Linked DNA regions of Homo sapiens: region 2 is linked to region 1. The links come from fine-mapping of genetic effects on gene expression. Tissue or cell type: esophagus muscle. Region 1 holds a variant in brackets; the other region holds the start of a gene. All regions are shown on one strand. Distances are from middle to middle.

What was found. PIP is the estimated chance that this variant, and not a neighbour inherited with it, causes the effect.
Region 2: CMTM7 starts here. The variant in region 1 is fine-mapped to the expression of CMTM7 in esophagus muscle (GTEx, PIP above 0.99).

The regions. Positions count from the first base shown.
Region 1 is chr3:32,578,546-32,581,224 of GRCh38, forward strand. It overlaps LOC124906226 (a long non-coding RNA gene), which reads left to right and starts at 163. Exons shown (of 2, transcript XR_007095860.1): 1 at 163-200; 2 at 447-1,064. The variant C/CTTCT (reference allele first, on the strand shown) is at 1,253.
Region 2 is chr3:32,390,714-32,393,392 of GRCh38, forward strand. CMTM7 (CKLF like MARVEL transmembrane domain containing 7) reads left to right here and starts at 1,140. Exons shown (of 5, transcript NM_138410.4): 1 at 1,140-1,352. The coding sequence starts at 1,194.

The DNA of each region.
Region 1 (2,679 bases):
TATCAAGTGGACCCTCACAGAACATCATATCTTAGTGAGAGGTGACAGCGTGCTGGCAGCTCTCGCTCGCTCTCGGCACCTCCTCTGCCTGGACTCCCACTTTGGTGGCACTTGAGGAGCCCTTCAGCCCACCGCTGCACTGTAGGAGCCCCCTTCTGGGCTGGCCAAGGCCGGAGCTGGCTCCCTCAGCTTGCAGGGAGGTATGGAGGGAGAGGCGCGAGCGGGAACCGGGGCTGCGCGCAGCGCTTGCAGGCCAGCTGGAGTTCCGGGTGGGCGTGGGCTTGGCGGGCCCCGCACTCGGAGCAGCCGGCCGGCCCTGCTGGCCGGGCAATGAGGGGCTTAGCACCTGGGCCAGCGGCTGCGGAGGGTGTGCTGGGTCCCCCAGCAGTGCCGGCCCACCGGCGCTGTGCTTGATTTCTCGCCGGTCCTTAGCTGCCTTCTCTCAGGGCAGGCCTCGGGACCTGCCGCCCACCATGCCTGAGCCTCCCCGACGAGCGCTGCCCCCTGCTCCCCGACGCCCAGTCCCATCGACCACCCAAGGGCTGAGGAGTGAAGGCGCAGGCGCAGGACTGGCAGGCAGCTCCACCTGCGGCCCCAGTGGGGGATCCACTGGGTGAAGCCAGCTGGGCTCCTGAGTCTGGTGGGGATTTGGAGAACATTTATGTCTAGCTAAGGGATTGTAAATACACCAATTGGCACTCTGTATCTAGCTCAAAGTTTGTAAACACACCAATCAGCACCCTGTGTCTAGCTCAGGGTTTGTGAATGCACCAATGGACACTCTGTATCTAGCTAATCTAGTGGGGGGCCTGGAGAACTTTTGTATCTAGCTCGGGGATTGTAAATGCACCAATCAGCAGCCTGTCAAAACAGACCAATCAGCTCTCTGTAAAACAGACCAATCAGCTCTCTGTAAAATGGACCAATCAGCAGGATGTGGGTGGGGCCAGATAAGAGAATAAAAGCAGGCTGCCCAAGCCTGTAGTGGTAACCCACTCGGGTTTGATTGCCTACTGGGGAAGGTTTGTTTTTTCCTTCTTTGCAATAAATGTTGTTGTTGCTCACTTTTTGGGTGCGTGCTGTGTTTATGAACTGTAACACTTACTGCGGAGGTTTACAGCTTCCTTTCTGAAGTCAGTGAGACCGTGAACCCAGCAGAAGGAGGAAACTGTCTCAGCATCCGAATGTCACAACGAGCAAATCCACGTGCGGCGCCTTTATGAGCTGTAACACTCACTGTGAGGGTCCACGG[C/CTTCT]TTCTTTAAGTCAGTGAGACGAAGAACCTGTCAATTCCAGACACATCAGCACAGAGAGATGGAGAAATACCTAAAAGAAAGTAGAAATAGACTCTTTTAACGTGTTTGTTTTTTCAGAGAAACCGCCAGAAAGTGCCCGGGGCAGTGGCTGTCGCCTGTAATTCCAGCACTTTGGGAAGCAGGAAAGGGCAGATCACTTGTGGCCAGGAGTTCAAGGACAACTTAGCCAACACTGTGAAACCCCATTTCTACCAACAATACAAAAATTAGCCAGACATACTGGGGCATGCCTGTAATCTCAGCTACTCAGGAAGCTGAGGCAGGAGAATCGCTTGAGCCTGGCAGGTGGAGGCTGCAGTGAGTCAAGATCAAACCAGTGCACTCCAGCCTGGGCAACAAAGCGAGACTGCACCTTAAAAAAAAAAAAATGCTTTTATTTTTACGTCTAATGTGAAATCCCACCTTTCTTAAAAAAAAAAAAAAAGTACTGGTAGGTGTATGTGTGCATGCAAGTATACTTTAGGACAAAATTTTACAAAGAAATATTTTTTTGTTTGGTTGTGGTTTGTGTTTTTGAGATGGAGTTTCACTCTTGTCATCCAGGCTGGAGTGCAACAGCTCGCTCTCGGCTAACTGCAAACTCCGCCTCCCGAATTTAAGCAATTCTCCTGTTTCAACCTCCCAAATACGTGGGATTACAGGAGTGCATCACTGTGCCACCTAATTTTTTTGTATTTTTAGTAGAGACAGGGTTTCACCATGTTGGCCACGTTGGTCTCGAACTTCTGACCTCAGGTGATATGCCCACCTCATCCTCCCAAAGTGCTGGGATTACAGGCGTGAGCCACCGTGCCTGTCGAAGAAATTGCTTTTCATTGGCTTAGAAATGTATCATTGAGAAATAACCGTCTCTGAATATATATTTTTTAATTCCAGGATAAGGTAATAGTAGAATTGCCTTTCATTTCAGACTGAACTTCTCACCACAATATCCATATTCATTCTTGGAAAATGGATGATGAATGGAAGGATAGTAACCTATAAAATCAACTCATACAGCAGCTTGAGTGGGCAAATTATGTTAATGTTAAGTGAGATGCACAGGGAAAGCAAAGACACTTGTCTTTTAGGCTGGAAGCATTCTTTAAGTGTTTTAATTATCTACTTACACATTTTTCAATACTAAACAGATAGGAATTTTAGGGTGCTTAGTTATCATTGTTTTAATCTATTCTTTGCCACTGAAAAGAAGAAAGAAAAAGGTCCACTGACTAATGTATTGTTAATTGCATATTTATTATACATATTTTTGGAGGATCTAATTTTCTTGTAATCAAATACTCCGAAGTTCAAGTCCATTACCTTTATTTAGTGATTTTAGTACCACTTAGTTCTCAGATTTCCAGTGTTACACTCTACTGCCCTCT
Region 2 (2,679 bases), 190 kb before region 1:
AATTTTTTGTATTTTTAGTAGAGACGGGGTTTCACCGTGTTAGCCAGAATGGTCTCGATCTCCTGACCTCGTGATCCGCCCGCCTCGGCCTCCCAAAGTGCTGGAATTACAGGCGTGAGCCACCGCGCCCGGCCCAGCTAATTTATTTTTATTTTTTGTTTTTTGTAGAAATGAGGTCTGGCCATGTTCCCCAGGCTGACAGCTTCTAACAGAAGCAAACATATGCTCCCCTTGTAACCAGTGCGTTCACTTGCAGATATTTGTCCCAGAGAAATGAGAGTTTGTATCCACCAAAAAAACGTGTACCATAATAGTGACTATAGCCAGAAAAGAGATGAGGGAGGGGGGAAAGGCCGGAAGGAGGGAAGGAGGCAGGCAAGCAGGTAGGAAGGAAGCAAGCTTGGTGTCCATCAACTGGGTAAACGTTTAAAAAATACGGTATCTTTGCACAGTGGAGTACTACTCAGCAATAAAAAGGAAGGAACTGATATGAACTACTTATATTCCCAACAGGATGGATCTTCTAATTTGTTATGTTGAAGGAGAATATTCTGTATTACTTCAAGTTTATGAAGTCCAAGAACAGGCAAAATGAACCTACAGTGACAGAAAGCAGAATACACTGTAGTGGTTGCCTGAGGCTGGATAAGGATGGGGCCAGGGAAGGAAGGTAGGTCAGGAAGGCCCACCACGGAACTTTCTGGGGTGATGGGCACGTTCTATTTGTTGATCTGGGCGACGGTTACACAGGTGTACACATATATAAAAATTAGTGGAGCTGAACACGTAAGGTCTGGGCATCACACTTTATGTAAGTTAAACTTCAGTAAAGTGCTCTCAGCACACATCCGCAGCCGCACCCACACAAAATCCCAGGAGGCTCAGTACCAGCTGTGGTCCGGGCCTTGCCCACCTCGGAGAGGCCACGACCCAAGGCATCCGGTTTCCTCTCGCTCCAGTCTAACTTCCGCGCATCTACGAGGGCCGGGACTGCCGCTACCTTTCTGGAAGGCGCCGGCCGGCCAGTCACCGGAGGGATCCCGCCAGAGGCGGCTCCGCGTCTCCAGCAGCGGGGCAGGGACCCGGGCGCCCCGCCCTCGCCAGCGCCCGCCCCCGCCCGCCCCCGGCCCGCCCTCTGTATCTGGCCCCTGGGCAGCTGCCCGGGGAGGCGGCCAGCGAGCTGGGGCCGCGCAATGTCGCACGGAGCCGGGCTCGTCCGCACCACGTGCAGCAGCGGCAGCGCGCTCGGACCCGGGGCCGGCGCGGCCCAGCCCAGCGCGAGCCCCTTGGAGGGGCTGCTGGACCTCAGCTACCCCCGCACCCACGCGGCCCTGCTGAAAGTGGCGCAAATGGTAAGTGAGCGCGGGGCGCGAGGCCGAGGTTCTACAGGGCGTCCCGGGAAAGCAGGGGTCCGGGAGCGGACGCGCCGGGCGTCTGGACCCGGCCGGAGCCCAGGGAGCATCGCGCAGCGGGCGGGGCACCGCGTCGCTAAAGTTCGCGGCAGGCTTCCTCCGGGAAAGTTGCTGCCGCAGCCCCCGCGCTGGAGCTCAGTCCCCAGAGCCGCCCCGGCCCTTGCTCCCGCGGACCCAGGTCGCCAGGGTCGCAAGTTTCTCCGGCCACCCCCCTGCGAAGCCTGACCCGCCTACTGACTGAAACCACGGGCAAAGTTCCTTTTCGTCTTTCTTCCTCTTCTCTGGGCCGCGCCGCTTCGAACCCGAGCCGGGGGTGGAAGAGTCGCCCAGGCGGCGGCGCTGAGGGAGCGAAACCCGACCTCTTCCCCGTCCACGGCCTCCTCTTTCCTCCGAACCCAGCGCGGCAGGGCTTCCCTGCTCTGTGTGCAGTTTCGCTCGAAGGAGGAGGTCAGAGGGTCTTGTGTTCCATAGTGGGGAAAAAGAACTGGGACCGTTGAGACGGCCGTCCTGGTCCCCTGCGCCCTCAAGTTCCGAGGGAGGGCCCGGGTCTCAGGGGGCTCTGGAGGGCAGGGGGTCAGTTGGGAAAGGCCTGTTGTCAGGGGCTGGTACTCATGTAGGGGAGCCAGACTGTTGAATGGGAGTCACCCGTGGAGCCAGGCAGGATGAGTGTCTGGGCTTGGATTGTGACCAACTCAGCACAAGGGCCTCCTACCAGGGCAGACGTTGCCTGGCCGATTCTCTTGTTCCCCACTCTTTTCTTTTCTCCCCTCCCGTTTTTTTCTTCTTTAAAAGTTTGTAATCTGAAACAACTTTTCCGTTTGTATGATGTGTTTTGAAACTGGGTTGGGCTGTTTGTGAGTCTCCACCATTGTAATGTTTGCACCAAGAACGGTGGGGAGGGGAGCGGTAAGTTTCAAAAAGAGGTGTGGGGAAAGGAGTGTGGGGCTGGACAAGGTCACACACCCAGAAGCTGGGGCCTGCTAAGGTGGCCTGGCCCCAGGGGGTTGGGCACAGGACGTCTGTGCATCTATAGCACTGCCATTCCAGACACTGAGTGTGCATGAGGTGGCCCTCATGTCTTGCTTGGGCCAGACCTAAAGAGAAGGGGCGCTGAGTTCCTGCCTCCCTAAGAACGGTGTCTAGATAGACCAAAAACTAGGAAGAGCCATTTCAGCAACGTACAAAAAAATCTGGTGCTGAGCATTGTTGGGTTTGAGCAGGGCATTTTTTGGCCCAGGCTAAGAGATTTGATCAGCCAAATAGAAGA